Linked DNA regions of Homo sapiens. The protein of the gene in region 2 interacts with the protein of the main gene of each other region in a pairwise test. Each region holds a gene or a part of one and is shown on either strand. Other genes may lie near its edges.

Region 1 (3,817 bases), on a different chromosome or scaffold from region 2:
CATTGTATGAATGGGTTTTTTCTTGAGCATAAAAAAATATGGGCTCACTGTAGATTTGGAAAATAGGGGAAAGTAAAAAGATAATAAAGGTCTGTAATCTAATCTATATAATTGTATTTCGTAACGGGTACGTTACATGTAGTTGCCTGTATTTTGGCCTGATAGAGTAGAGTTGTAGGGGAGCAGCTCTGCCATTCAGTCTCTGCAATGCTTTAGGGCAGCAGCTGGGACCTGCCCACACTACAGCCTTCCTTCCTTCCTAGGCTGCAGGAGAATAAGCCAGGCCCCCAGGAGTCCTTCCCCTGAATAAAACCCTGCAGCCGTCCACTGTGGCATCACATGTGCCTCACTTACAAAAGCCAAGTGCAGCAAATGCAAGATAATATAGTTTTGTAGCCCAAGAAGGGCTATAACTTACCCAAGATAACACAGCAAGTAAAAGATGAGCTGGGAACGGAGCCCAGGTCCCCTGATCTCCAGACTCAAGCTCTTCAAAGACTTACATCCTGCTTCCTATTAACAGCACTACCAAAAACACCGAGCACAGTAGATCATGCCTGTAATCCCTTTGGGAGGCCAAGGCTGGAGGATCACTTGAGGCCAGGAGTTTGAGAGCAGCCTGATCAATATGGTGAAATCCTATCTCTACTAAAAATACAAAAATTAGCCTGGTGTGGTGGTGCATGCCTGAAATTCCAGCTACTCAGGAGGCTGAGACACGAGAATCACTTGAACCCGGGAGGTGGAGGTTGCAGTGAGCCAAGATTGCACCACTGCACTCCAGCCTCAGCAATACAGTGAGACTCTGTCTCAAAAAAAAATAAAAATAAAAATAAAACACTACCAAAAGCAGCAGGAACATATATAGCACTAACTATGTGCCAGGCGCTGTCTTAAATGCTTCATATGCATTAGCTCATATATCATTCTCAAACAACCCTATGAGATGAGTACTATTATTGTCTCCATTTTATAGATGCTGAAACTGATGCACAGAGCGGTAAGACACAAAGTCACGCCTAGCTGGTAAGTAGCAGAGGCGGGAATCATCCTTAGGCAATTTGATTCCAGAGTCTGTGATCTTGCCCAGGCTTTCTTCCCCACTCCCCCAGGCCCAAGCCCAGCTGGGACTCAGGAAGGCTTCTGGAACACTTGCTGCCTAAAAGGAAGAAAACCTGCCTAGAAGTCACCTCTCTGGCCAAGGTCATGCTGTAGCTCCATGGCAGAGCCAGGATTTGAACCCGGGCTTCCTAATGCCCAACTACCAGGGCATTGTTCACTTCTCCACATTGACACTGAGAGCCAAGGCCCAGAACTCTGAACAACTCCCACACCAGATCACCCTTCCACACAGCAGGGAAAGTCAAGTTGCGGGGTGGGGCGGCGGAGAAGAGGCAAAAGCTTCTGCTGCAGGGTAGGAGGTCAGAGGGGAGAGTGGGGCTTCCCAGAGCTGCCCACCTGGGGGTCTGCATGGATGATGTCCAGGATGGGCTTCCTGGAGGCCACCGTCCCATTTCTCCAGGCCCCAGCTTGAGTCCCCACAGGATAGCAGCACCTTCCACAAACAATTGTTGACTCCAAGATGCTCTTTCTGGCTGAGTCAGAGTTCACTAAAGGCCAGAGTGGCCCCTTCCTGGGTTAGGACTGAAGGAAGTCATGCTGTTCCCCTCTCAGGAGGGTAATAAAGGCCAGGCATCGGAAGAGAAGCAGAAGCTCTGCTGAAAGCAATTCCAGGACAGACGGTGCATTCCCATCTCCCTGGATCCAGGTTGCAGAAGTGCGGCCCACAGGCCTGAAGCACCAGGCAGTGGCATCCAGGTCCTGCTTCCCGGCTCCACTTTGCCAAGGAGTCACCTGGTATGTGGTACCAAGCTAGGTACTGCTGATACCCCCGGCCTCACCCAAGAGAACCACTAACCTATTCATTCAGTCATCGATCCCCAAGTGCCTGCTGTATGCCAGGAATCAGAGATACAGACAGGACAGGGCAGTGCCTGCCCAGGAGAGCTCATGGAAACACATCATACACCACAAAGTGGCAGGATCAAAGAGGAGGGTACACAGTGTAGACAAGCACAGAGGAGAAGGTGAAGGGCAATGAGGGGCTTGGGAAAGGCAGCCAAGCACAGAGGAGAAGGTGAAGGGCAATGAGGGGCTTGGGAAAGGCAGCCAGAGATGTTCAGACCTACTGCCCCTCAGGAAGCTGAGCGTCACAGTGAGGAGACCCAGCCACCCCCAGGAAGAGCCAGAGAGCCCCACATAGCCAGACATGACTGGCGTCTTGGGGCACACACATATTGGAGAGGCACAGAGGCCCTGTGCAGAAGGAAGGTGTTCTGGGAGTGTCCCTGGGGGCCTGAGAAGGAGCCTGGCACCAGCCTTGAAAGACCAACCAGATACAGCAAACAACAATGGCTCTCCTTTATTGAGCATTTACTATGTGCTAGGTATAACAATACTAAGCATTTCATGTGCACTTTTTTGTCTTCTCCTCATGACCTATGAAGTCATGACCATTATTATCCCCATTTGCAGGTTCAAAAACTGAGGCTCAGAAAGAGTCACGTAGCCAGAAATTGGCAGGGCCGAGATCTCAACTCTAAAGTCCAGTGCTTTACCGCCATGCTGTACCATCATCTCCCTAATCTGTTAACAGGCAGAAAGAAGATAAAGGTGCTTCAGGTGGGGGAAACAAGGTAAAAATAGGGAGGTAGGATCAAGTGCTCTTTGAGGGGAGCTGCCCAGCTCCTCTGTGTTGGGGTTGTATTTGTGTGTGTGCGCATGCCTGAGTATGGGTGGGTGTTCACAGACATGCCCTACTTTGCAAAGGATAGATCCCAGGTCCCAGAACTCCCCGAGAGCCAAGGAAAGAATGGGGCATCAGCAAGTCAGGGAAGGAATCCCAGAGAGAAGGAACTTATCTAAGGTCACACAACATACACACAGCAGAGCAGCAGCCAACTCCAAGGACCAGAACACAGGTCTCTTTCCTCCATCAGCTGCCTGTCCATGTCAGCACAGTGAATCAGCTGCTGACAGGAAAACCACAGTGGAAGGGGAAGCCCGGGGGTGAGTCAGGAACCAGCCAGCCTCCGAGAGACACCAGCTGGGCCTGTTGCAGAGGCCCCGGGTCTGTGGTTGTCTGCCTCTTCTTAGGGCAGCATCAGGGGCGAGGGGAGCAACACATCCCACACCACTCACTCCATGTTTACCTCTGGGCTTCCCCTCCCAGCTCCTCAGACCCCGGCTTAGTGGAGGGGAAGCGGGTGGGTAGGGCAGTTCCTGCTGAGATTAAACGGGTCCTGTCCCACAGAGGGGCCCAGGCCAAACAGTCCAGGCTCTTCCCTCCCTTCCCACCTCTCACAGAGCCAGCTCCTGGCCGTTTGATGTTCTTGATTAAGTCATAACCGCCCCCTGTGAGCTTCCCATGGGGCAGAGGAAGTGGGTATAACGGTTTGGAGCAGAAGGCCAAGGCCAAGGTCAAGCCAGAATCAGGGGTGCCAGCTGGCCCCAGATGCTCCGAATCTGAAACAACACTCAGAACTTGGGGCTGCTCAGCCATGGGTTGAGGGAGGACTGTCTGGTCCTTAGGGGAACAGGTTTGGGTCCCCAGGGTGGAAGGGGATGGCCGGTGGGAGCTTCCAGGCTGTGGCTCTAAAGCGTGAGGCCTCAAGACAGAGGGGGCCGCCCCCACATAGCGGAAACTTCAGAGGAGCCCAGGGAAGCCAAAATCCTGCCCCAGTCCCCCTACTGTGGGAAACTTGTGCCCTGACTGCTCACCCACTGCCAGAGATAGCACATGGCTGACCTCTCACCC
Region 2 (3,817 bases):
ACCACAGACTTGCTCTCTTACTTCCTTCAGATCTTTGCTCAAATATCTTATCAGAGTCTTTCCTATACCAAGTAGTCTAAAGTAGCACCTCCATCAATACCCTCTTACCCTACTTTATTTTTCATGATATTTTCTGAGTTTATGTTCCATCTTTATTTCTTCTCTTTTTGTGGTATTTCTCTCTCTAGAGGGCAGGACATTTGTTTAATTCACTGACATATTCCCAGACCCTAGAAAAGTACCTGGCACAGAGTAGGTGCTTTGCGAGTATTTGTAGAACTTACGGATCCTGCTGCTCAGAGACAACTGTTGATGTTTTCATGTGTTTTCCTGTTTCCTTTTTGCATTTATGTGTGTGTATATAATAAATTTTTGCTATTTGTATATCTGTGTATTTAAACTATTTAAGATGAGAGTAGAACCAAATAATTTTATGGCCAGCTTTTTTCACTTAATTTCATGAGAATTTTTTTTTTTTTTTTTTTTTTGAGACGGAGTTTCGCTCTTGTCGCCCAGGCTGGAGTGCAATGGCACAATCTCGGCTCACTGCAACCTCCGCCTCCCAGGTTCAAGCAATTCTCCTGCCTTAGCCTCCCAAGTAGCTGGGACTACAGGCACCTGCCACCACGCCCAACTAATTTTTGTATTTTTAGTAGAAACGGGGTTTCACCATGTTGGCCAGGCTGGTCTCGAACTCCTGACCTCAGGTGATCCACCCACCTCGGCCTCCCAAATTGCTGGGATTACAGGCATGAGCCACTGCACCCAGCTGAGAATTTTTAAATGTTAACATTCTTCATAATCATTTTTTGTCTTTTCAGTCCATTGCCTACAAATTCCATACATACCCACCTCCTGTTATTAGACATTTTGTGTTTTTGTTTTGTTTTGTTTTTCTTTTTACTTTTTGTTGTTTTTGTTTTTAACAAGTTGGTTTTTACATCTCTTTCCAGAAGGGCGTATACCGCATCTCTAGGAGAGACAGCAGTTGCATTTGACTTTGGGCCATTGGCAGCAGTCCCAAAGACTCTATTTGGACAAAACGGCAAAGATGAAGTAGTGGCATACCCACTGTACATCTTATATGAAAATGGAGAGACTTTCCTGACATACATCAGTCTGTTACACAGGTAAGTTGAGGTGGTCACCCACCTGAAATGAAAACTCAGTTTGGGCTCCAGTAGATATCATTGAGGCTGGACTTGGGAGCCATGTTTTTGAGTCTGTGGAAATGTTGCAGCCTTCACATGCTTGGCTTGCATATTTTTGAGAAAGAGTTAGTACAGGTCATTTGGCCTTTCATTTCTTCATATTATTTGGGTAAGTTCTATAGAATTCTTGGATAATCACTTATGATAGGCCTGGATTTGTGTTCACAAATTCTAGTTATCCGAACAAGTGCTTATTGTTTATCTTATATGAACAAGACACCACGTAGGCGTGGTAATCTGGTATCTTATGTCCCAGTTGTGGGGAGAAAGATACATACACATGAAAAAATACTATCCATACCACAGTATTGGTACACAGACAGTAAGAACCCCGAGGAAGGAGAGATCATTCTGACTGGGAGGTTAAGGAAATTTTCGTAGAGAAGGAGTGGTGTCATGTGTGACTTAAAGGTCTCATTCAGGATTAAATGAAGTATCAAGGAAGAGTGAGACCATTTCTGTCAAGGGCAGCATAAAGTAGCGTCTGAAAATAAGCAAGTGCAAGTGTCATTCAAGCTTAATTTATTAGACATTCTGGGCTAGAGCTGAGGATTCATGTAGGGAGCATTAAGTGATAAAGCTGGAGTATCTGTCCCGAGAAAATTTGCTGGAATTAAAAATACCTCGTTAAAAGAGTGAGTGTGGGTTTTTTTTCTGTAGGAATAGGGTAGTAGGAAGCCAGTGATGGTTTCTGAACAGAAGGACAAAACAATTGGTTAGGGAGGGGACTGGGACAGAGACTTTTAAAGAAGCTTTTGCAAAATTGAGCTTGTCATTTATGAGAGTTTGAACTTGGGTGGTAATAGAACAGAGGGAAAAATGAAACACAGTAGATAACAACAAAGGAAGGATAAATAAGACTTAGTTACTGTTTGGATAAGGGAGTATGCCATGAACAGAAACAGGTCAGTAAAGGCTGCTAATTGGGGGAGAAGATTTATTTCTAAGTAAATCAGTGTAAGATAGTATTGGACCAATAAAATGGAAATATTCCATGGACAGTTGGAAATACAGGATGATGACAGACAAGAAGAATTAAAATAGAGGTATGAGAATCATCTTTCATGGTGAGAGAGTCTATACAGGATAAGAATTTGAGGGAAAACTGCAGAGGCATAAGGCTAAGGGCTGAGCATTAGAGTTTATTCGCTTGTAAATCGACTTAACAGATACTTATTCAGGACCCACTCTGGCAGAAGATGGAAATACAAGATTGAAGGCAAGGTTCCTGCCATGTGGTTCCTTAACTACCAGAAGGGCATACAACTAAACCAGTAACTATAGTACAGTGTCATGTGCTCAGGGCATCACCGGGTTCTTCAGGAGTGTGATGGAGTAAATGAGTAGGCCTGCTCATCTTGGAAGACTTTAAGGAAATGCTATTACAAAAGCTTGAACTTGAAGGATTCACTAGACAGAATCAGAAGTGGGTACAGGAGAGAGAAGAGAGTACGCAAAACCATAAAGATTAGAAAGATGAAAGAGCTCGGTAGGTTACAGAATGGTGAGGATTCACTGTTGAGTGCATTCTCCTTGGCAGAAATGTTCTCTGCCTTTCACACATGATCTCAGGAGGATTTTGTGGTAACTTTAGTACCTTCCCTTACCCTTTCTCCTCTTGCTGCTGAGCCCTCATTTGTCCAAACCATGATCTGCCTAGTAACGTTAGCCCAAAACCCAAAAGTTTTCTTCATCCTTACATTTCATCAGTCCCAAATTTCTATTGATTTTGTGATTTAAATTTTTCGAAAGTATACACCAAGCTTGTCCAACCCACGGGCTGCGCGCAGCCCAGGACAGCCTTGAATGCAGCCCAACGCAAATTTGTAAACTTTCTTAGAACATTATGATATTTGTTTGCGATTTTCTTTTCTTTTCTTTTTTTTTTAAAGCTCATCACGTATTGTTAGTGTATTTTCTGTGTGGCCCAAAACAATTGTTCCAGTGTGGCCCAGGGAAGCCAAAAGATTGGACACCCCTGATTATACACCCTTCTCTGCATTCCTCTGTCCCTGCTTCAGAACTGCATCATCTGCCTACTTCACCATCTGCCTGGCTTATTTTCTTAAATAGTTTCCCCAAATCCCATTTTGGACCCTTCCATGTCTTCCTCCCTAATACCAGACTGATTTGTAAAGTGAGGCTCCATCGCTTGATTTAAACCTCTAGTGATATACTGTTACCCGGCAGATAGATTTCAAATAGTTTAACATAGCACACAAGACTGTGTACTTCATAAGCCAGTCCTGGATGTCTGTCTAGCTATTTTGCCGTTGCCTTCCACCTTGTACTTTGCCTCCCATCATACTAAATAAGTTTTCTTGTTCTTAGTTCTTTGTCTTTCATGTTTCCAGGACTTTGCATAAACTGATCTCTAGCTTGGAATGCTCAACAATCCCCTTCCCAGAAATCATTCTTTCTCATTTTTCTCATTTATTTTTTATAGCTTTCTTCATTATCTTTGTATCTTTTTGTCATTCCTTTGTACACCATAAATCCTTCTGTTGTTGCACTTATCACATGGTATAGTAATTCTGGTTAAATGTCTGCCTCATCAACTAAACCATCATTCACTGGGAGTATCATCTAGCACTCAATAATAAGTA

The links.
Region 1: the proteins of NUP88 (region 2) and CD82 interact in a two-hybrid assay, tested with the Homo sapiens proteins (one large-scale study listed by IntAct).

The regions. Positions count from the first base shown.
Region 1 is NC_000011.10:44,568,588-44,572,404, reverse strand, and holds part of CD82 (CD82 antigen), read right to left. Parts: intron 1-3,817. UniProt on the Homo sapiens protein: Structural component of specialized membrane microdomains known as tetraspanin-enriched microdomains (TERMs), which act as platforms for receptor clustering and signaling.
Region 2 is NC_000017.11:5,406,046-5,409,862, reverse strand, and holds part of NUP88 (nuclear pore complex protein Nup88), read left to right. Parts: intron 1-953; coding exon 954-1,130; intron 1,131-3,817. UniProt on the Homo sapiens protein: Component of nuclear pore complex.